Regions from separate parts of the Homo sapiens genome. Here regions 2, 3 and 4 are each linked to region 1. Evidence: fine-mapped expression QTL. A gene starts in region 1. Each other region holds a variant in brackets. All regions are shown on one strand. Distances are from middle to middle. Region 1 holds the start of CHN2 (chimerin 2). Region 2 has its middle 91 kb from the start of CREB5. Region 3 overlaps CHN2 (chimerin 2). Region 4 has its middle 7.7 kb from the start of CPVL.

Evidence for each region.
Region 2: its variant is fine-mapped to the expression of CHN2 in monocytes (Kim-Hellmuth 2017, PIP 0.95).
Region 3: its variant is fine-mapped to the expression of CHN2 in ovary (GTEx, PIP above 0.99).
Region 4: its variant is fine-mapped to the expression of CHN2 in whole blood (TOPMed, PIP 0.94).

The regions. Positions count from the first base shown.
Region 1 is chr7:29,192,284-29,197,433 of GRCh38, forward strand. It overlaps CHN2 (chimerin 2), which reads left to right and starts at 2,492. Exons shown (of 13, transcript NM_004067.4): 1 at 2,492-2,707. The coding sequence starts at 2,659. It also overlaps a transcript of CPVL not described here. RefSeq lists an enhancer at 3,145-3,780.
Region 2 is chr7:28,318,528-28,323,677 of GRCh38, forward strand. It overlaps a transcript of CREB5 not described here. Among named protein-coding and RNA genes, the nearest start is that of CREB5, 91 kb to the right of the region's middle. The variant T/C (reference allele first, on the strand shown) is at 2,188.
Region 3 is chr7:29,476,774-29,481,923 of GRCh38, forward strand. It overlaps CHN2 (chimerin 2), which reads left to right. Exons shown (of 13, transcript NM_004067.4): 7 at 3,506-3,583. Among named protein-coding and RNA genes, the nearest start is that of PRR15-DT, 84 kb to the right of the region's middle. The variant G/A (reference allele first, on the strand shown) is at 2,909.
Region 4 is chr7:29,151,707-29,156,856 of GRCh38, forward strand. It overlaps a transcript of CPVL not described here and a transcript of CHN2 not described here. Among named protein-coding and RNA genes, the nearest start is that of CPVL, 7.7 kb to the left of the region's middle. The variant C/T (reference allele first, on the strand shown) is at 3,107.

The DNA.
Region 1 (5,150 bases):
ATACCCCCGTCCCTTCATCTGTCAATTTAGGACAATAAAAATAATCTGCCTCACAGAGCCATGCTTTACTTTCTCCAGTTAAAACACTATGAAGGGAAATATGAGTATCCGAACTGCAGAAACATAATCTGTTGTCCTTTTGTGAAATTTCAGAGATGAATAATGAAACCTGTTACCCTATTGCACAATTTGGGACAAGAAATATAAGCCATAGATTGAAGATAAGACATTTCCCCCTAGTAGAACAGGTCACAGTTGATTAGTTATCTCCAGATGCAATGAAGAAAGCAAAAATTTTTCAAACTATACATTCCTTCCTTAAAGTGAGCAACTTACAATCACTTTGGAACACAAACTTCATGCCAGGTACACTGTAGCTTTCCACATAGCATCTTATTTAATCTTCACAGCATCCTGTGTTATCAGATTTTTGTGGCAGGTGTAGAAACTGAGGCTCAGTAGGTCTAAGTAATTTGCTCAAGTTCGCAGCTAAGTGACAGAACCAGAGTTTGAACCCAGTTGTCTTCGAAGCCCAGATGGTAAAATTCTACCGGGCGACATAGCCAAGTCAGATAGTCCACCATCTAAAGATCTGGGGGGCTACATAGATTACTAGTCAAACAAGTAAGTGCTGTTTTCTATCAGAAGAACTCTGGGGAAACAGTAAGTTCCTTCTGATCTGATCAACAAGCCAAGTGTGTGATGGGTCACGTGTCCCTGAAGGCTCCAGATTAGGAACTGCATCATTTCGTGCAGTCCACAAAATGAAGGATAGTGGTAGGGGCTGGGAAAATGCGGGCGCTTGGGTCTCCTTAGACCAGCCAGGGCTGTTTCAAGGTCCATACAGTTGAGGGGTAGGAAGACGCAGTCCCACGTGACTGAAGAGTGCTCACACTCCTTTAACAGTTTAGCAAGGTGTATTTTTAAAAAATGGACCTTAATGAGAAGACACACTGGGATAGTATCCTGGAGGGATTTTTTTTTTTAAGTTCTAATCAACTAGAAAATGTGACGTGGGTGCGTACTGTGATTATTTAACATTCATTATTCACTGTATGTTAGGTCCTTGGTTGATGTGGATCCCCAGGGCCTAGCTGCTGTTCTGTGTCACTCCTGATAATTTTTAAATTGACTATGTTCTTTTAACCATGTTTTAAAAAGTTGAACTACCCCAATGTGAACACTTTCCATTTTTGCTATATAATGAGAGTACTTTCATTCCTTTAATGTTTGCTTTTTCCTTTGATCTAACAATTTCTCTTCAAATTTCACAGTTTTCTGTTGCTTTAGGATTGAAAGAACCGATTAGCCCGCTGGGAGCGTGAAACAGACTTAAAAAAAATCTGCATGGTATTTCCTCCCAGTGAAATTAATTTAGGTTTAAATACAGGGGGAAGGGACACACCTTGTGCTCGAGTCTCTTTCTCTCACACACCTGAGCAGTTCCTATCCTGAAAGGGCACAGTCGGACCTGCTGCCAAGTCTTAAGTCTTTTGTGAGAATCTTTTTTTGCAAGGCACGGAGAACCTCTTTCTCTTTGACACCAGCTTTGTGTGGGCCTGATGACACGTTTGGACGGCTCTATTTCTTTGAAGGCCAACCTCAGAGGCCCACGGACGCGTCGGGCACTGTCCGTGGCTGGGTTACTTAAGTGTAGCTGGGTTGGCTTCCCGGGTGTTTTAGGAAACGCACCTTCTTGCAGGGCAGGGACCGTCAGCTCCAGAGCAACAAAGGACAATTTGGAGAGGAGTGGAAGGAGCGCTCCATAGTGGCTCTGTCATCCCAGGTTCCCTTCTGCCTAGCACCGTGGCCCTAGTGATCCCGCCTTCGCCCTCTGGATCCCCCACCCCCACTGTCTCGCTGCTCGAGAGCCCGGCGGGGCGCGGTGAGCCCCACCACCTTCCCCCACACCCTCCCTCCCCATCCCCTTCAAATCCTAGGAGCAGCGCTGCGCGCAGCAGCCGCGCTCGCCCCGCGCCCGGCCCCGGCCTCCCCAGCACCCCGGGGACCCGGTCCCCCGTCCCGCCTCCCCCTGTCCAGCAGTCCGCAGCCTCCCCCTCCAGCCCCAGTGGCGGGAGCTGTCAAGCCCGCAGCAGCCGAACCACCCCCCGAGCGACCGCGTCTCCTCTTCTTCCTTTGTGTGTGCGCGAGCGGAGTTGGGGCGGAGGGAGAAGGGGGAGGTCGCTCTGTCTGTCCGTCTCCCGCCGCCTCTGCCCGGTCTACTCGAAGTGCGGCGGGAGAGGCGGGAGCCCAGGAGAGGGTGCGGGAGCTGGCGGGGCGGCTCGGAGCTGCCAGGACGCCCTGGTCCCAGCCGCGCACAGGGGAGCGTGGACGGCAGAGGGGCTCGGCGGGAGCCGAGATCCGCCCGTCCCGGCTGCCCCTCGGCCTCCCTCTGCTCCCACCTACCCCCTGACACCCATAGAAAAGCGTGCAAAGGCGCGGAGCGGGACGGAAACCACAAATAAATAGCGGCGGCGGCAGCGCGTCATCTGGTGGAGCAGGAAGTGCAGGCAGAGTCCGGAGGCTGGTGCTTTCTGCGCGTCCCCAGGACTTTGCCATGGGCTGGGGGCCGCGGAGGCTGCGAGCGGCCGGGCGAGGGCAGCGGCGGCGGCGTCCGCACCGGGGCTGAGCGAGCAGCGACGCGAGGGGCGCGCGGAGATGGCAGCGTCCAGCAACTCCAGCCTGTCCGGCTCGTCGGTGTCCTCCGGTGAGTTTCAGCCCGTCGGGCGCTGCTGCCGCGCCGGGTCTCGCCCCACTGCCCTCGCCCCGCAGCCTGGGATGGACAGAGCCTACCTGTGGCCATCCCGCCCGCTCTCTCGGAATGGGGGCAGGCGTCCGGGGTGATACTTGTTTGGTTCGCCAGCACCTCGGTGCCCAGAGCACCTCCGCGCCTGACATCTGACAGCGCAGAGGTGGGAGAGCGGTGGTGCCCTTAGTGTGCGGACGCGGGTGTTCCGGGGCTTGGAGTGCAGCGAGCGAAAAGCGAAAGGAGCGGGCAGGCTCGCACTTTCTGGCGCAGCTGGAGCGGGGGCTGGCGGGGCGGAGAAGGTTGGGGTGAAGCAGAGCGCCCCGACCTGTTTGCCGTGCCGCGCCCGCTACCCTGGACACCCAAATCCGGAGCAGAGGGGAGCAAACCCTCGCTCCTCGCAGACTTGATTTTCTTTGTTTGTTTCAGAAATTAGCTCTATGGAGACACTCGCTTGGGCATGGGTTTTAGACAGCAGCAATGAAGGGATGTATCTTTCTGATCCTGATTGAAGTGGGTTAGGGGAAGAGAGGTCGAGCCCATCCTCTGACTCTTGGCACATTTACGAGAGAGAGAGAGAGAGAGAGAGAGAGAGAGAGAGTGTGTGTGTGTGTGTGTGTGAGAGAGAGAGAGAGAGAGACTCCTTAGAGATTTTCTGATAATAGTGGCTGTAATTTCACTAGCAAGGCATGCATTTTTTTTCCTTTTAAGAATGGTTGAGCAAAGGGAAGGCTTCTTTCAGCTTTTCTATGGTTGATCATCGGGTCTAATTGAAGAGAAAAAAATTGCTAATGAATCTGAAGGAGTAGGAATCAATAGAGGCAGACCCACTGGTTTCTGAGTATGACAGGTTTCTAATCAGAATGATGCATTAGGTAGAATTCCTGTACCTCTCTGGTCATTGAAAACTTTAATGACAAACCCAAAGGGATAGCTGATAAGACATTTAGGGTAGTATACAGTATTTAAGGGTCAAGAAGGTCATGAAGTCCTAATGGAAGTGCTTCAATATATTAATATTGTATTAAGTCCCATTGGGCTGTTTTTATTATTATTCGCGAATTAAACTCAAAGGAAGAAACACCTTTTTGGAGGCATTGGATAGCAAGCAGGGCAAAAAGGCAACCACAGCTTTAGATGTGTAACTCACTAAATCATAAATGCAAGGTGAATTTGACTAAGGTGCAATTGTGATGTGGCACAAGGTGATCACTTGAAAGCCATCTGTTATCTTTCTTGGCAGATTTACTTCCTGGGAAATGGCACTTCCTTTCTCGATCACTGCCAACTAATTGAAAACACGTTGTTGTTAGGTGTGTGATATAGTTCAAGTTTCTAGTAGTGGCAGCCAATGGGGCAGAAGTCATATCTTATTAAGAGCAGCAACAAGTTGACCGCCGTGGTTTTAATTCTGAGAACTCAGCAAATGCTACAGTTTATTTTTAGTACCCTCAAACCACTGCTGCTGTTTTTCAATTCATTTTGGTTGACTAACATTGAATTTAAAATACAGTGGTGTTGGCTTTCTATTAGCATATGGTTATCCCTCTCAGAAAACTGCCCACTAGAAAATGAACTGGTGGGGCAAAAGAAAAGACGAAAGGAGAAAGGACAAGGAGCTGGTGGTGTCACATGATTTACTGGTGGCATGAATTACAGCTGCTGTGGCATCTGAATTTCCAGATCTTGATGTAGCTTAAGAAACCTGATTGAAAATCCTAAGTCAGCCTTCGGAAGAATACGTTGGTTTGAAACAACACAGTATGAGATTTAGATGATGGTAATTGCTTTCAGATAGGTTAGAGATGCCCATGATAGTTCTTTTTCCTGCTTTATTTACCCCTATTTTTAATCCTAAGGGAAAATGGGAAATTATGTGAAAACTGAAATTCAAAAAGTGGGCATGGATGTATTGTTTGGCATGAATCAGCCTAGCCCATGAGTTTATACTGCCTAATTCCCCAATTAATCAGGCACTTTGTCTTGAAAAATACAGCATTGTAGTTCTCTTTTAAAGCACACTTACCATTGTGTGGATCATGAATAATTCAGATGACACAAGCAATTCACACCTGTGAGAGGTGTTGGGCAGAAAGAATAGAGTCTATTTGTGGTGGCAGCTGGGCTCTCTCAGGGGAAGGCCAGAATCTGAGAAATTAGGGCACTCCGTCAATGTATTAATCACTATTTTCAAGGGCCTACTATGTGCCAGGCAGTAAGTTATAAACCTCAGCTTCAAGAAGGCTAAGGGGGAAAGATAATTGTAGGATTCCCTCTAGCTCTGAAGTTCTGGGAGTATTGTCTTTTAATTCTGGCTTCATCACCGACCAGCTGGGTATCTTGGAGTGAGTTACTTAACTTCTCCAAGCCTCAATTTCCTCTTTTGTAAATGAGGCTGATACTG
Region 2 (5,150 bases), 870 kb before region 1:
AATACACATATTTCCAACATCACTGATTCTCTATAGAGCCTCCCTTCTCTGCTACAATGCCTCACTCTCAGGGTTGCCTGAGACAGGAGTTGGACCACATGGCTTGACCCAGGAGGCATGTTCAGGCTGAAAGAGACTGAGAGACAGAACCAGTTCCTGGTTCAGGGATCGTGCCTAAAATGTCCTGCATCTAGTTCTACAGAATGAAATACTAGACTCTTAGAAGAGGCACAGAATATCATCGTAAATACAGCATCCTATGCTGCTACATTGAAGAGGAAGAATTTCAAGGCTCATCAAAATCAAATTGCTTAGGCTTCTGTAGATTGATAATATAACACCTGGAAATAATTATGTGGGGAAGAAAAACAAAAAGTACCAGAAAAGTCCTCCCAAATATCATCTACTCAATAGATTTTGATTCTGGACTGACATTCTATCTGTGGCACTTCAAGCAATTCGACTAAAGGAAGCCCGCTTATCTGTATGTTAAATGTACTAAGTCAGTGGGTGGAGTGACATATGGGGTCATTCCAATACTCTTTTCTGGTTTCTTTAAGGTCAGGGCCTAGAATGTACCTTGAGACCTGTTCCCCAGCTTGAGAAGGAGAGGGAGCCATAAGGAAAAACTCCAGTGGAGGGAAAGGAAGAAAATGGCATCTCCTAATAGGTGTGCCATATTACATGGCCTGTATAGAAGATCGGTGGGTCAAAGGGCAACTGAAAAACTCACTAGTAAGGGCAAAAAGGGCTTGTTTCTCTTATAGAGTAATTCCTGTGTATCTTATTTATCTTTCACTTGTGCCACTCATTTACATAGAATACCTTTGCCCATAAGTTGGAGTATTTTTACCCCTCAATGTTGGCAAGTTGCAGGGTAGCTTTATGGTAAAAGAGAGCAAAGGTGTGTCGTCCTTTGATTCCCAAGATTCCTAGTGGAAGTATTTTCTTTGTTATTCTCTGAACAAAAGATAAAGAGGAGGCTGGACTTCGGAGTATTTGTGAAAATGCTATTTCTAGCCCTCCATCCACACAGTGCCTTTCGGTGTTCATCTGGAGGTGATGAAGGTGGATGCAGGTGACTCCTCCGCTCTACCCATGCTCACAGCCCAGCCCACTCTTCTCAAGAGTGCCCCACCATTTCCCCATCAAGTCCAAAGGCAGCACCAGAAGGGTAGAGTGAGCATCCCCGAAGTCTGTGTCTTTATTATTTCCGTGGTCTGCTTCAAGTGTTATCCCATGTGCTTGGGGTAATGTGTTTGTTTAATTGATGAAAACTCTAGGTGGCAGGAGGCTGGGAAGGTGGCTAGGCTTTTTCATATTTATTCTCATGGAAAACATTCCCCTTTATAAATCTTTTTGCTACAAATAGTGTTTTTTTTTCTTTTATGTAATTTTCTTAATTTTTAAAAAAATTTTTTGAGACAAGTTCTCGCTCTGTCACTCAGGCTGGAGTGAAGTGGTGTGATCTTGGCTCACTGCAACCTCTGCCTCCTGGGGTCAAGTGGTTCTCATACCTCAGCCTCCCAAGTAGCTAAGACTACAGCTGCGTGCCACCATGCCTGGCTAATTTTTGTATTTTTAGTAGAGACGGGGTTTCGCCATGTTGTCCAGGCTGGTCTCGAACACCTGACCTCAAGTGGTCTGCTTGCCTCGGCCTCGGATATGCTGGAATTACAGGCATGAGCCACCACGCCTGGCCGCTTTTATGTAATCTTGATGTAACACCAATCCCATGTAGTCGGCACAAATTATAAAGTGTGTAAATGACTGGTGAAAAAATAATGCCCTTCTCAAAGAGAAGATAATTCCATTACAGGGAATCTAGGGGCCGTTCAATGCCAGAGGATCCCACCCAGGAAAGCTGGTGGCTGCAGGGATAAAAGCCAGCAGTTTGGAAAGAAACACCTATAAGAACATGGACCACGTAGGAGCCTAGCTTCAAGCTCCGCTTTACCAGGCTTCCCTTCCCCTTTGCTGAATTGCAGCTCCTGATCCTGCCTGCATCCTACTGGCCTGTGTTACATAAAGATCTAGTTCTGGAATACAGGAAATATGGTGGAGATTGTTCTATGTTAAGGTTCCAAGCCAAGTACGGGCCCATATCCTCAGCTAAGATAATTATTGGTGGGTGAATAAATTAGGCTTGCCGACACTTGTCTGTTTAAGCAAAGACAGCATTTTAAA[T/C]ATTAGAAGAATGTCCACTTCACTCTACAGAGTCAACATTATTCAGCACTTCCATTAGCTGTGGATTACCAAAGCAGAAGACAATTCTTAAGTTAAGAAAATTTTATGAGTGAAAAGACAAATGTAAGCAAAGTGGATACATATTCTGAAAGTTTTATGTAAAAACCAAGGTGCAGGTGCAAGTATATGTAATTGATACGTAATGCAGAGAGGCAGAATGGGAGAGCAGAGGAGAACACGGACTCGGGAGCAAGATGGCCTAGGTGTGGAGCATGGCTCTGCCACTGACTACCTGGGAAACCCTGGGCAAATTACCTGACCTCTCTGGGCCTTGCTCTCTCCTCATCTGTACAATGGGGCAATGATAGAACTTGTCTCAACGGATTGTAGAGAGGATTAAACACGCTAGAGCATGTAAAGAACTTGGACACACTGCTTGACACTTAGTAAGTGTTGTGAAAGTATTAGCTTCCTAATGCAAGCATTGTCTTTGCCTCTTCATCCTCTTTTTTTTTGTACCCTTCATCCTCCTCTTCTTTTTCCTTCTCCTCTTTCTGTCTCTTTTCCTCTTCCTCCTCGTCCTTCTTTATTAGCATGATTGTACATGCGAAATGGCCAGGGCTGGCTATATAATTTGTCGAGCACAGGACAAAATGAAACTTCAGGGCCTCTTGTCCAAAAATCAGGGGGAAAAAACATTTCTTTTTCTTCTATCTCTCTCTCATACCCAATCTATCACAGGGTTCTTTGTTGGCTATTTATTGACCCATCTTCTCTCAGGCACGTATATTCTCTGGGCAAGTATAGACTCACAAGTGCCTGGAGTCCCTCCTCGAAATTTGGTGTGTGAGTGTGCGCCCAACTCCACCCTTTGCTGTGTTTGTGTCCAGCCTTTTGCCAGGGGTGAGGTGACAGAGATCACTGGGCTAGGGGCAGGAGAGGGTTGGCAGAGAACCCATCCCAGGGAGGCAGGGAGGTGGTGAGTGGGGGACTGCACAGGAGCAGAGGCCCCAAGCCCTAGTGCACACTTCATTGTTCCACTGGACTTCACTTAGGAGAAACACATTCAAAGGTAAAATTATTAAGAATTTTCAACATGATCACAGAGCGCCGATGCTCCAAGGGGTGGCCCCCTTCTGAGTGTGGGACCCTGTGTCAGATACATGAAGTTGGCACTGACAGTAGCAGAAAAGATGTGAAGTTAGCAATCAACGAAATCCCATTTTGGTTATTAAGTGATTCTTTGGCTTAAGATGTAGAAATTGGATTTTATTATCAGTTTTAGTGAGACGAACACAAATTAGGTAACTCATTTTATCCATTTATTAAACTTAGGGAGAAAAATGCACATTTTAACCAACTGGTCTACCCCAGAGATGTAGTAAAAAAGTAGCTTTTAAAAAGACCTTTGTGCTCTTCTACCCAAAAGCATTAGATGGGCATTTTCCAAAGTGTGTTACTTGAGAAAAGGGTTCTGTGAGGAACAATTGGCTCCTTGGGTAAAACAGAATTAACGGATTTTTGAAATTCAGGACTACCCACTTACTAAGTGGGTAGTCTAATTGTTTTTCTGTTTATTTACCTTAGGTCTTACTCTTTTCCAATTAATCATCTTAGACTTTGGAAGGTGAGGGGAAACATGGAAGCAGAGTCCATTTAGCAAGCTGAGATATTGTCAAATTTCAAAATGAATTTTTAAAATTAAATTTAATTTTTTTATTTTAAAAGTTTTACTTTAAGTTCTGGGATACATGTGCTGAACATGCAGATTTGTTACATAGGTACACATGTGCCATGGTGGTTTGTTGCACCTATCAACCCATCATCTAGGCTTTAACCCCCTAATACATTAGGTATTTGTCCTAATGCCCTCCCTCCCCCAGCCCCCCACTCCCCGACAGGCTCTGGTGTATGATGTTCCCCTCCCTGTCTCCACATGTTCTCATTGTTCAATTCCTACTTGTAAGTGAGAACATGCAGTGTTTGGTTTTGGTTTTCTGTTCCTGTGTTAGTTTGCTGAGGATGATGGTTCCCAGCCTCATCCATGTCCCTGCAAAGACATGAACTCATCCGTTTTTATGGCTGCATAGTATTCCATGGTGTATATGTGCCACATTGTCTTTATCCAGTGTATCCAAAATGAATTTTTAATCTTAAATGTAACTGGCCTCTCAGTTCTTCCACCATGTCCCCTCCAATGATCATTTTCTATAATTATCCACTCCTAAGACCATATTCTTAGTCCCCTCCCTCTGTCCTTTAGCTAACCAACTCTAGTACTCACTAGTAATTCTTCTGCCTTGTTGACGAATTGACCACCAACAAATCATTGACCAGCACTTTAATACCTCCCTTAGTGCCCTCATTTCCTTCTGTATCCAGCTTAATGACCATGCCCTGTCACTAGGAACATTAGCACCCTAATTCTTTCATACCCTCCCCTCACCGAACTTGGCTGGGAGAGCCCCAATCCTGGTTAAAACCCACAACTACCTACTATGTGCCTGCACTTGGTTGGAGAAAAACCCACAACTGTGCTGACTGTTCTCACTTTAAATCCTTGCCCTCAAATCTCAAATGGACATTCAACGTAGCAGCAAATCTTATTTACTTCACTTTTCCATGCTTCAAAATTACTCTTTTTATCCCTTCTCCTCTTCCCTTCCTCCGTGTTCCTATCTTGGGACCCTGCTTCATTCTTCATTGGAAAAATAGAAGCAACTAGGTAGTAATTCTTTTACTTTTTTTCAGCAGTTAATCTACCCATACCCTTTTCCTTTCCTTCTTGTGTCATAAACAAAGTGCCCCTTCATCCTCTCAAGGAGTTATTCTTACTCTGTACCACTTTTCGGCTCCTGAACTCTTATCAGTATCTCCCCTCCTGTGTCACTCACTGTATCTCCAACATCCCTACTCTGTCTAGGGCAGTGAACCCCAGCCTTTTGGCACCAGAGACCAGTTTT
Region 3 (5,150 bases), 280 kb after region 1:
AGGCAAAGAATGCCACTGAACATCCTGCAACGTACAGGACAGCCTCCCACAACAAAAGATTATCTGGCCCAAAAGACCATTCGTTCCAGTGAGAATCCCTGGTTCAAACAGAGCATGTAGGGAAATGTGCTTCATCTCATGAATGTATATATTAAAATAGGTCAGGTAGAAATTTTCATTAGAAGAAGACGGTCAGCAAATGTATTAAATGTCCCTTGTGTATAGAGAACACTATATTAGACATTACGGAGCATATAAAATAAGGCAAGGAGCTGTCCTTGAGGAGCTGAGATAAAAAAGAGCTCTGTGTGATGGGGTTATTTCAGAGAGAAGTTTTCGCCAAGAGATTACTGTAATCAGTTTTCCCTTAATAAGAGGGTGATCTGAGGTCACCCACACTGCTCCCAGTAATGCTCGCTCAAAGGCTAACACTTCTAGTCCCCTGTAAAGAAGCATCCTAAGGGAATAGTGTTGGTTCCTTCACTTGTCTGAATGTGTCTTGTGTTTGGGTAAATTCTATTGAATCAATAGCTGAAAAAGAAATCACTGTCACAAATGGAAATAAAAATTACTTGTTATACATACAAGCACAGACATGAAAAAATATTAAATCTCATTGTATTCAACCATCCATAGACCAAAAGGAGGAGATTCTTTTGGCCACTTTCCATGTAAATAGTTATTTGATCAGATTCTAAAAATGGTATATTCATGTCATTAGTCCAGTCCACATCACAGAATTTGCCCTTACACAAATGGCTCACCATCAAAAGGTCTCTCTCGCTTTGCTAGCAGTGAAGGTTGGGAAAGGACCCTTTTTGCTTCTCTCCATCTTTTTACCTGTAGACTAAGGATGGGAAGCCCTGCAAAGGTATGCCAAGCCTTCACTTAACGCCTGCCATAACAGTTGTCCTTCAGAATGGGACAGTGGGAAGAAGGGCCAAGGGGCCTGGTGAAGCCCATTAAGAGAGTAGACCCCTGGAGGGAACCTTGTCTTTGGAAGCTGAGGCAGTGGATGGGTGGTCACAGGAGGGACTGGAGACCCCGCACCATGCAGTCCTCTTTGCACACCTTCTTCCACAACCCTGGCTTCCTATATGTACATGTGCTTTCTAGCAACTTATATTTATTCAGTGTCTACTGTGGCAAGGACTCTTATTAGACACTTTTGTAGGGGGAAACAAAAGCAAATTAAGCATAGAGCATGTCACAGTGAGTTCTCAGTGTGGCAGGGATAAGAGCTGTTATAGTCACTATAATACAAGACAGAAAGTGACAAGTGCAATCAGAAAAATGTGGATAAAACACTATGGGATTTCAGAGGACACAGTTGGCCTTCAGTGGGGAGTCTGGGGAAGTCCTTTTGGAAAGGGTAGCATTAGAATCAGAATGTAAATGTTGGTGAAAATGTAGATATGTTGAAAGGATGCTAGAATATTCTAAAGAACAGAGCAAGCTACCAAGGTTAGCAGTTAAGTATGTCACAGAAGAGATGTTGTAGGATTTGTGGAGGGGAGTGTAGGGAAATAGGATGAGCTGGGTACATTAGGATCAGCTCATGAAAAACCAGCAATGCCAGGACACAGTTAAGCTATGGAGAAGCATGGGTGGATTAGGAAGATTGTTGTAGAGCGATGTGTAAGGTGGACTGGAGAGATAACAAGGGTCTGAGTTATGTGGGGAAAGAAAGGTAGGGAGAGGCCAGACTCAACCAGTATCTGAGATAAAGCATTTGTCAGGACTGATGGCAGGATGAGGCAGCACATGGGTGTACCGAGGCAGCAGGACACAGTGTTGAGGAGCATGGGCGCTGGACACAGATGCTTTGTGTTCTAGCCCTGGTTCTGCCACTTAAACTAGGCTGCATGTCCTTGGGCAAATTGCTTTACCTCTCAGTGCCTTGCTCTCTTCATCCAAAAGAATCGGGAATAAAAATCTTGCTCCTCACACCCATATGCTGCAGATTAAATGAGTTAAGTGCCTTTGACACATTCTAACGTCCTCTGACACAGCGTAAATTATTGTGCTCAATAGCTTAACGTAAAAATTGGGTGTTATTATTGAAGGTCATGAGAGGATGAAATGGGAGGATGAACTTTTGAACCAAGTTAAAATCATGGTGTTTACCAGGAATAAAGAATTACACATGGGAAGGAGTGATCTTTGGTTACTCTTCACAAGGCTGCTTGGAGGGACTGCAGCATGGGGCCCTTGTTTGAGTAGAGGACAGGACTGCCCATCTACATAAAGGCCCAGTTATCTAGATCTTGTTTTCTAGTTCCTAAAGCATTAATTTTACTGTCTGGCATTAGCTGCATTAATCTTCACCAATGAGTCAGGAGTACTCCCAAGACATCAGGATTTCCCTGCTTCTTTTCATGGGGAGACCTAGGATCAAAGAATTAGGGTCATGGGAGACCATCAAACAGATGATGCTTTTAAGAGGAAGGAGGCCATTTTCATAGGCTTGGGCACTAACAGAATGAACACTGAAGATGTTTTATTTAAAAGAAAAGCAATTATGATGTTTTGATTTTAGGTAAGGAATATTGTCTTGTCTGTGTGGGTTTGAGCAGAGTTTGTTCGTGCAGGAAGGACAGGAGAGACCGGGGAGTGTCCTGAGGCAAGACATCCTGCCTCTTATTCTGCAACTTTGCAGAACTCAGAGTGGAAAAGCTTTGCTCTCCTCTGATATCCCATTTGGTGCTCAGACTGTTCCAATGTAATGCATGCATAAGAATAAAAATTAAGCTTTCAAGTGCTAAGGCAGATTTTTAATAAAGAGACATAGGCTTTACCCCTATAAGATTAAACAGTCATCAGGGTTTAAAGGTTTAATCTGTTGGAGCTCAGCCCAGGATGGGGTTCAGAGCCCCAGATTAATTGGATGCAGCCTCAGACTTTGAAC[G/A]TCAGAGCTGGCTGGGGGGTGTGTGCGCTGGTGTGTTTGAGTGTGAAATGTGCTAATAAGGAGGAGAGACCTCTCCTTTGCAATGTGCTGCGGCAGGAGAAAGCAGGCTGCCGGCCCCTGCCTCCCTGAATCCTCAGTGGCTGACTGGATACCGCTTCTGGGGGTTGCTGTGCACATGAATGTTTGCTATTGTTCCAGGCGCACGTCGGCCTTAAGAAATAGCACAAAACAGGCCCATCCTTATTCAGAAGCCGGGCCCCCTCCATCACTCAAACTGGGCCTTTCAGGTCACATGCCGGAGGCTGCTGCAGACAGGACCCAGCTGCCTCAAATCTGCCGCCTAACATAAGCTGCGGTTCGAAAATCCTGACAGCACAGGGCTTCCTGGGCTCTGCAGAGCAAACTGGAAAGAGCTGGGATCCAGGCACTATGTTCTCTGAAGAACTGTGGCTGGAAAATGAGAAAAAGTGTGCTGTGGTTCGGAAGTCTAAGCAGGGCAGGAAACGCCAAGAACTGCTGGCCGTAGCCTTCGGGGTGAAGGTGGGTGTCAAAGGCGGCTTTCTTTGGCCCCCTCTCAAACTCTTTGCCTGTTCACAGATCTCCTCCCTGGTTCGAAGGGCTGCCCTCACACACAACGACAACCACTTCAATTATGAGAAGACACACAACTTTAAGGTAAGCAAGCCTCTGCATTCCTTCTTCTGTTACAAAAGGGCAGGTGGAAAGGTACAGTGTATAGTTTCCGTCTGGTTTCTGACTGTAAAGTCAAGAGACAATGAATTCCTTTGCTTTCCACATTTAGCTATAAGCTTAACACCTGCGCTTTCTGTCAGTTCAAACTGGAGACCTCAGAAAGCAGTCTGCTCAGTGCTTATGCCTGGAAACACCTTATCTGGATGTTGACTTAGTTTTGGAGAATTGGGCCCATTGCCACTTCACGTTCCCATGTCCAGTGAAATAAACACAGAGCATGCCCAGTCTCTCTCAGTCAGAGATGTTCTGCTGAGAGCTGAGCAGTACTTTTCCACTCAGTAAAGAATATTGCTGTCTCCGAGCAAGGGAAAACAGTTGCCTGTTTCTCGTTTTGTGTTTTGTCTTTTGTTTTCAGTGATGCTAACTCCTTTCCTTTATGCGTAGACACCTGTGAAATCAAATAATGACAGGAGATGCCATCCAGAAGCTTTTATTTGTGCTCCGGGTACGGCTAGCAGGGGGGGCACCCTTGGTCACAGCCTTTATCCTGCTCACCAGACCAAACAAAAAGATCTGGAAACCTGGTGAGGGGTTAAGTGGAATTTCCCAAGTGAATTTATAAACTGGAAAGACCGCTATGTTCGTTTCAGACTGGTACTTGTAGAAGGGGCCTGCCATCAGAAAATTATGGCCTGTTTCCTTTGCCCAAGTGTTTTCCAAGAAGGGCTGGAAAGGGATGCTGCTGCCAAATTGTCTAGCTTGAATTGCAGTTGAGAGGAGGAGAGACAGGTTAGAGTTAGAGGCTTCACCCCAAAAAGTGAGCTGGCAGTTTGAAAGTTGGGGAGAGTGGAGATGGAGGATCCAGGAAGAAAACAATAGGCAGGAGAAGCAAAATGTGAATTGCTTTCTTTTAAAAAAATTCTTGTTTCCTTTAGGGTCAGTAACCCAAGTGACTCTTGGAATTAGATAACCCTTTTGTCAGAGGTGACGAGGGAAACTGATTTTATTCTGTTGCTTTCCGATCCTTTCTGAGGACAAATATTCATCTATTAAATATACATTGGTGTTAGTTTGGTCTGTTTCCCTGCATCTGTTTTTAGAAAGCCAGCAGCTCAGGCATTTGCATGCTATAATTGAACTGAGGAATGGAATTATACAGCCCTACATACTTAGCATTAGGGTGAAGAATTGCATTGCATAGGTCCTCTTCTATGCCAAAGCTTTTCATATTTCTCCCGTCACTGAATATTGACAGGTCTAATTTGGAGCATTAAATGCCTCCCGTTTTTTTTTTTTTTTTTACTCTGTTTTCCATTTTTATCCTCATTAATTTTTTTTGGCCTTAAGAAAGTGTTTTTTTGATTTTTAGCAGAAATCCTTGATTTTTTTGCATCCTGTGGATACACTACTAGTGATGAGAGGATGGATCTTCATGGACTTGTAAATTCTTTTTCTTCCTCTTGAAAATTCCAATTCATTTGGCGTTAAGAAATTGGAATTATGCCATACTATAATATGTTTGCATGGAGTAGCTTGTCCATGTATATTC
Region 4 (5,150 bases), 41 kb before region 1:
TGGCATCTGAATCCCAGCTCAGCCACTCATTAGCTGTGTGACCTTTGCTGTGTTAATTAACCTCTCTAAGCCTTAGCCTTCTCATGTATGGGAAGAGAACACCACCAATCCTACAAGGCTGATCTGAGGATTTGACGAAATTGTATGTATAGCCATCAACACAATGTCTGGCCCATAGCAAGCAGGTCATTCACTGGTTGAAGGAAAGACATTTGCAAAGGACAAACAGATAGTAAACAAACTCCCTTAGGTGAAGTAGTATTTGGAGTCTCCTCTTTTTCTCTTGTTTAGGTTTTATTTTATTTTCTTCGAATGGAAATAGTGGTTAGTGCAGGTGCTCTGCTTACTCATATTGTGCCTATGAAGAGTTGCATGATCCAAAGTGGGTTATCTAGAAAAGTGACTCTATAGCCTCTGAAGGGTTTTCCAGAACTTCAAGAACTAGGTCACATCACCAAATAAAGGAATACAAGTAAAATGGGCAAAAGGTATTTCTTGGTAGGAATGCTCAAGCAATTGCATAAAACCTTATGTTGCTTTTTATGCGTGGCAGCTCAGGCTAGACTGCTCAGAACTTCTTGCTGGGTTAACTGCTATGGATTTAAAGGATTCCCCCTTGATTCTGAGACAGCTACACCTAGGAGCACCAAGCAGTGAGAAAGAGAAAAGGTGCCAGAAAGCCAGTCCCCAGGTCTCTTTGTTCTCTATTCTCAGTTCCTGGCTAAATCTTTCTTGCTTTCCTCATTTGAAAATGGAAGTCATAACAACTTACCCACTCTATCCACCTTTACTGAGCCAAGGAGTCTGAATGCACTAGCTAAATGATACAGTGCCTGTCTTATGCCACATGTGACACCATGATCACTAATGTGATATAAATTGCCTGGGCTTAGTTTGTTCCCATCCACCCCACCCAGAGATCTATCAGCAAAAAGAAAAAAGGAATTATCCCTTCTTCTCAGTAGAAAAGTGACCTGACACAGAGCTGTTAAATTCTGGGCTCTTTTGCTCTGAGACGGTTGGAAGAGTTAACGCCATTTTGTCTCTTTCGGTGCACCCCATTGTTAAGTTTCTCTCAGTAAATTTTGACAAGAAACAGGCAAGCAAAACAAAATACACTCGATCCTTGTTATTCGTGGATTCCATATTTGCAAATTCTCCTCCATGGTCTGAATAACAAGGACCTCAGAATTCTTTGCCCAAATGTCCACAAGCTTGCTTCCAGAGCCTGCATGCCACTCTTCCTTGGAGTCATCCTCTATCTGAGGGGTGGCCAAAGGCCATGCTTACAGAGCTGGGATGCACAGGGAAGGATGTCCAGGAGAAGGACAGGTGTAAAGGTAGCACTCTACACCACCATGTTGTAGCACAGAACTTCAGGAAGTCTCAGAATTATAAACTCAAATTGATTATCTAGGTTGCTATCAAGGTATATCTTTCAAGGTAAGAGGGTATATTTCATTTAACAGTTTGTTCCCTGGTTTATAAGTGTTACATATCTAGACATATGGTATGTGGGCCTCTGTGTGTACTCTTGCCCCAAGCCTCCAAAGAAAGAGGCAGGCTTGGAAATAAATAAACATCTGTTGATTTAAACTACAGTTGACCCTTGAACGCATGTGTTTCAACTACACAAGTCCACTTATACACGGATTTTTTTCTAGAAAAGTGACACTGAGTGTGTCCACCTTCTCTCCCACCTCTCTACCTTTTCTGGTTTTGCCACCCCTGAGACATCAGGACCAACCCCTCTTCTTCCTTCTTCTCCTCTTCAGCCTATTCAATGTGAAGACAATGAGGATGAAGACCTTTATGGTGATCCAATTCCACTTAATGAACAGTAAATACATTTTCTCTCCCTTATAATTTTCTTTTCTTTTAGACAGAGTCTCACTCACTTTTGCCCAGGCTGAAGTGCAGTGGTATGATCTTGGCTCACTGCAACCTCCGCCTCCCAGGTTCAAGGAATTCTCATGCCTCAGCCTCCTGAGTGGCTGGGATTACAGGTGTGTGCCACCACACCCAGATAATTTTTGTATTTTTAGTAGAGACAGGGTTTCACCATGTTGGCCAGGCTGGTCTCGAACTCTTGGCCTCAAGTGATCTACCTGCCTCGGCCTCTCTAAGTGCTGGGATTACAGGCATGAGCCACCGCACCTGGCCTCCCTTATGATTTTCTTAGTAACATTTTCTTTTCTCTAGCTTACTTTCTTGTAATAATATAGTATATAATATGTATAAAATACAAAATATATTAATTGTTATGTTATAATAAGGCTTCTGGTCAACAGTAGGCTATTAGTAGTTAAGTTTTGGAGAAGTCAAAAGTTATATGTGCATTTTTGACTGCACAGGGGGTTGACAGCCCTAACCTCTGCATTTCTCGAGAGTCAACTGAACTAATATCTAGGACCTGTTTGTCACCACATCACAGCCTCATTTATTCTGACAGTTGCCCCTGGGGAGGAGGGTGGTGGGCTTCTCATTGCAGAATCTGTGGAACAGGATGCCAGCAGACAGAGGAGGGGCCCCAGCCAGCAGCTCTGAGTAAGTGAAGGAACAATAAGGGCAACAGCAGTGTAAATGCTGGAGATCAGGCCCCTCTCCATTCGTATGCAGTGAATCAGCCTCTAGCATGTCTGTATGAGCTAAATGGGTGGGGCTTCCCCATCCCTTCTCTTTGCCTCCCTTCACCTGTAGATTTTGGATGTTCCTGCCAAACTCAGCAGGTGTGAGCTCAAACTGGATTCTTTTTCAAAAACATAAAAAGAGATGACACTTCTTATACTCTAGATGTCATGAAACAGTTCACACCTGATCGATATTTAAAGAAGTATTATTATTAGGCTGGGCACGGTGACTCATGCCTGTAATCCCAGCACTTTGGGAGGCCGAGGCAGGCAGATTTCTTGAGGTCAGGAGTTTGAGACCAGCCTGGCCAACATGGTGAAACTTCATCTCTACTAAAAATAAAAAAAATTAGCCAGGTGTGGTGGCACGTACCTGTGGTCCCAGCTACTTGGGAGGCTGAGGCAGGAGAATCTCTAGAACCCGGAAGGCAGAGGTTGCAGTGAACCAAGATTACGCCACTGCACTCCAGCCTGGG[C/T]GACAGAGTGAGACTCCGTGTATTAGTCCATTTTCACACTGCTGATAAAGACATACTCGAGACTGGGCAATTTACAAATGAAAGATGTTTAATTGTACTTACAGTTCCATGTGGCTGGGGAAGCCTCACAATCATGGTGGAAGACAAGGAGGAGCAAGTCACATCTTACATGGATGGTGGCAGGCAAAGAGAAGGGTGCTTGTGCAGGGAAACTCCCCTCTTTAAAACCATCAGATCTCGTGAGACTTATTCACTGTCAGGAGAACAGCACAGGACCTGCCCCCATGATTCAATTACCTCCCACCAGGTCCCTCCCACAACACGTGGGAATTCAAGATGAGATTTGGGTGGGGACACAGCCAAACCATATCACTCCATCTCAAAAAAATAAATAAATGAAAATAAAGAAGTATTATTATTATCTAAACTTGGGTTGCACCATTTCAGGGAAAACAACTACATTTTAACAACATAAGTTAAAAAGCCATTATCAAAAATAAATAAATAGAACTCTTTCCAATGCTAAGAGGAAAGACAAGGCTGAGAGAAAAGAAAGAAATTAAAAGGTATTAAATCCTTACTACCAGCCAAAGTCATGCTAAGTGTATCACACATGAGGTCATTCAGCCCTTACTGTAACCCGAAAAGGTAGATATTATATTCTCCATTTTCTAATGGATGTAACAGAAGAATAGAGATGTTCAAACATGTGTCCAAGATCAAAGAGCTACTGAGTGTCAGAACTGGAATTCAAGCATAGGTCTCTCTGACACCAAAACTGCCATTTTTCTCACCTCTTTGTCTAGCTGCCTCCACTCCAATCTGAAGCTTGGAATACAAGCTTTGGATTCTTCCAATCATCGTCCTGCTTCCGTGTTTTTAAATCCTGTCCTTTAGCAAGGTCAACCGTGGACAGTCCTCCCTCATCGGGAGCCAGGAGGGTAGGCTGGCTGGAGGGGTCCTGTTGACAAATCTCATCCTTGTGATGGATTTTTTTTTTCTAGGCCTCAGGACACCTGGAAAGGCGAGGACATTTCTAAATGCCCTCTGTCCTTCAGACCACATCGGAGCGTCCTGTCAGGGTCTGTGAGCTGGGAAATAGGCCCTGAGCCGATAGATCTAGAGACGGCCACGTGCTCTTGCACAGCCTAGCCAGCTGTGCCCCTTGGGCTGTTAGTGAGAAAACTTACTTTTACATTTAATATTGGTTTTCTTCCCTTAAATCAAAAGAGTGCTGAGGGATAAACCGGCGAAGCATGGTGAGAGAGGGAAGAGTTAATGTGTGCAAGGTGAGCCCTCAGACAGAGAAAACTGGAAAACCATATATTTACTTTTGAGTTTTTTGACATTCAGGTCTATCTTCCATTCCCCCACTGGACTCGTCTGGTTTTGCCTGTGTTTAGAAGTTCTTCTGTGGCCTGTCGCCTTCCTTGCAAATCTGTTGCAAAGTAATTACATCTTAGTATTGGGATCTGTGTTTCAAAAATGTCAAAACAAATTTCGATGATTAAATGCCAAAATTAAGCTTGGTACTTCTCTAAAATTGATATGAAGGACACATTTTAATTAGAAATTATAAATCTGAGGCACTGTACCATCAAGCTACCTCCAAAACCCGAAAACTCCATAAAGCTCTAGCTCTGAGGAAAAAAAAGTTAAATTCAATCTAAAGATGGCGATCTTGTGAAATAACCAGCCATATGTCATCTCCTTTTATTGGGGCTGAAATTTTGCCCTGAGGCATCTGAAGGAACTCAGCTAAGGCATCCCCGATAAAGGTCATCTGTGAGGGAAACTTTGTGGGTTTTTTTTCCTCTTTAGATATCTATAAACGCTAATTAAATATGCATTATTGGTGTAATTTTGACCAAGGAGCTTTATGTTAGTATGAAAGCGACTATGTATTACTCTCCAGCACAGCTTACACAAGCATTATGCTAAATTATCAGATTTTTAGCTTCTGCATAGCTAAAGAAAAAGTCCAAGAAGTCATAATTCTTTATCAAAACTGACAGTGGATTATGCACCTGGAGATCTATCTAGC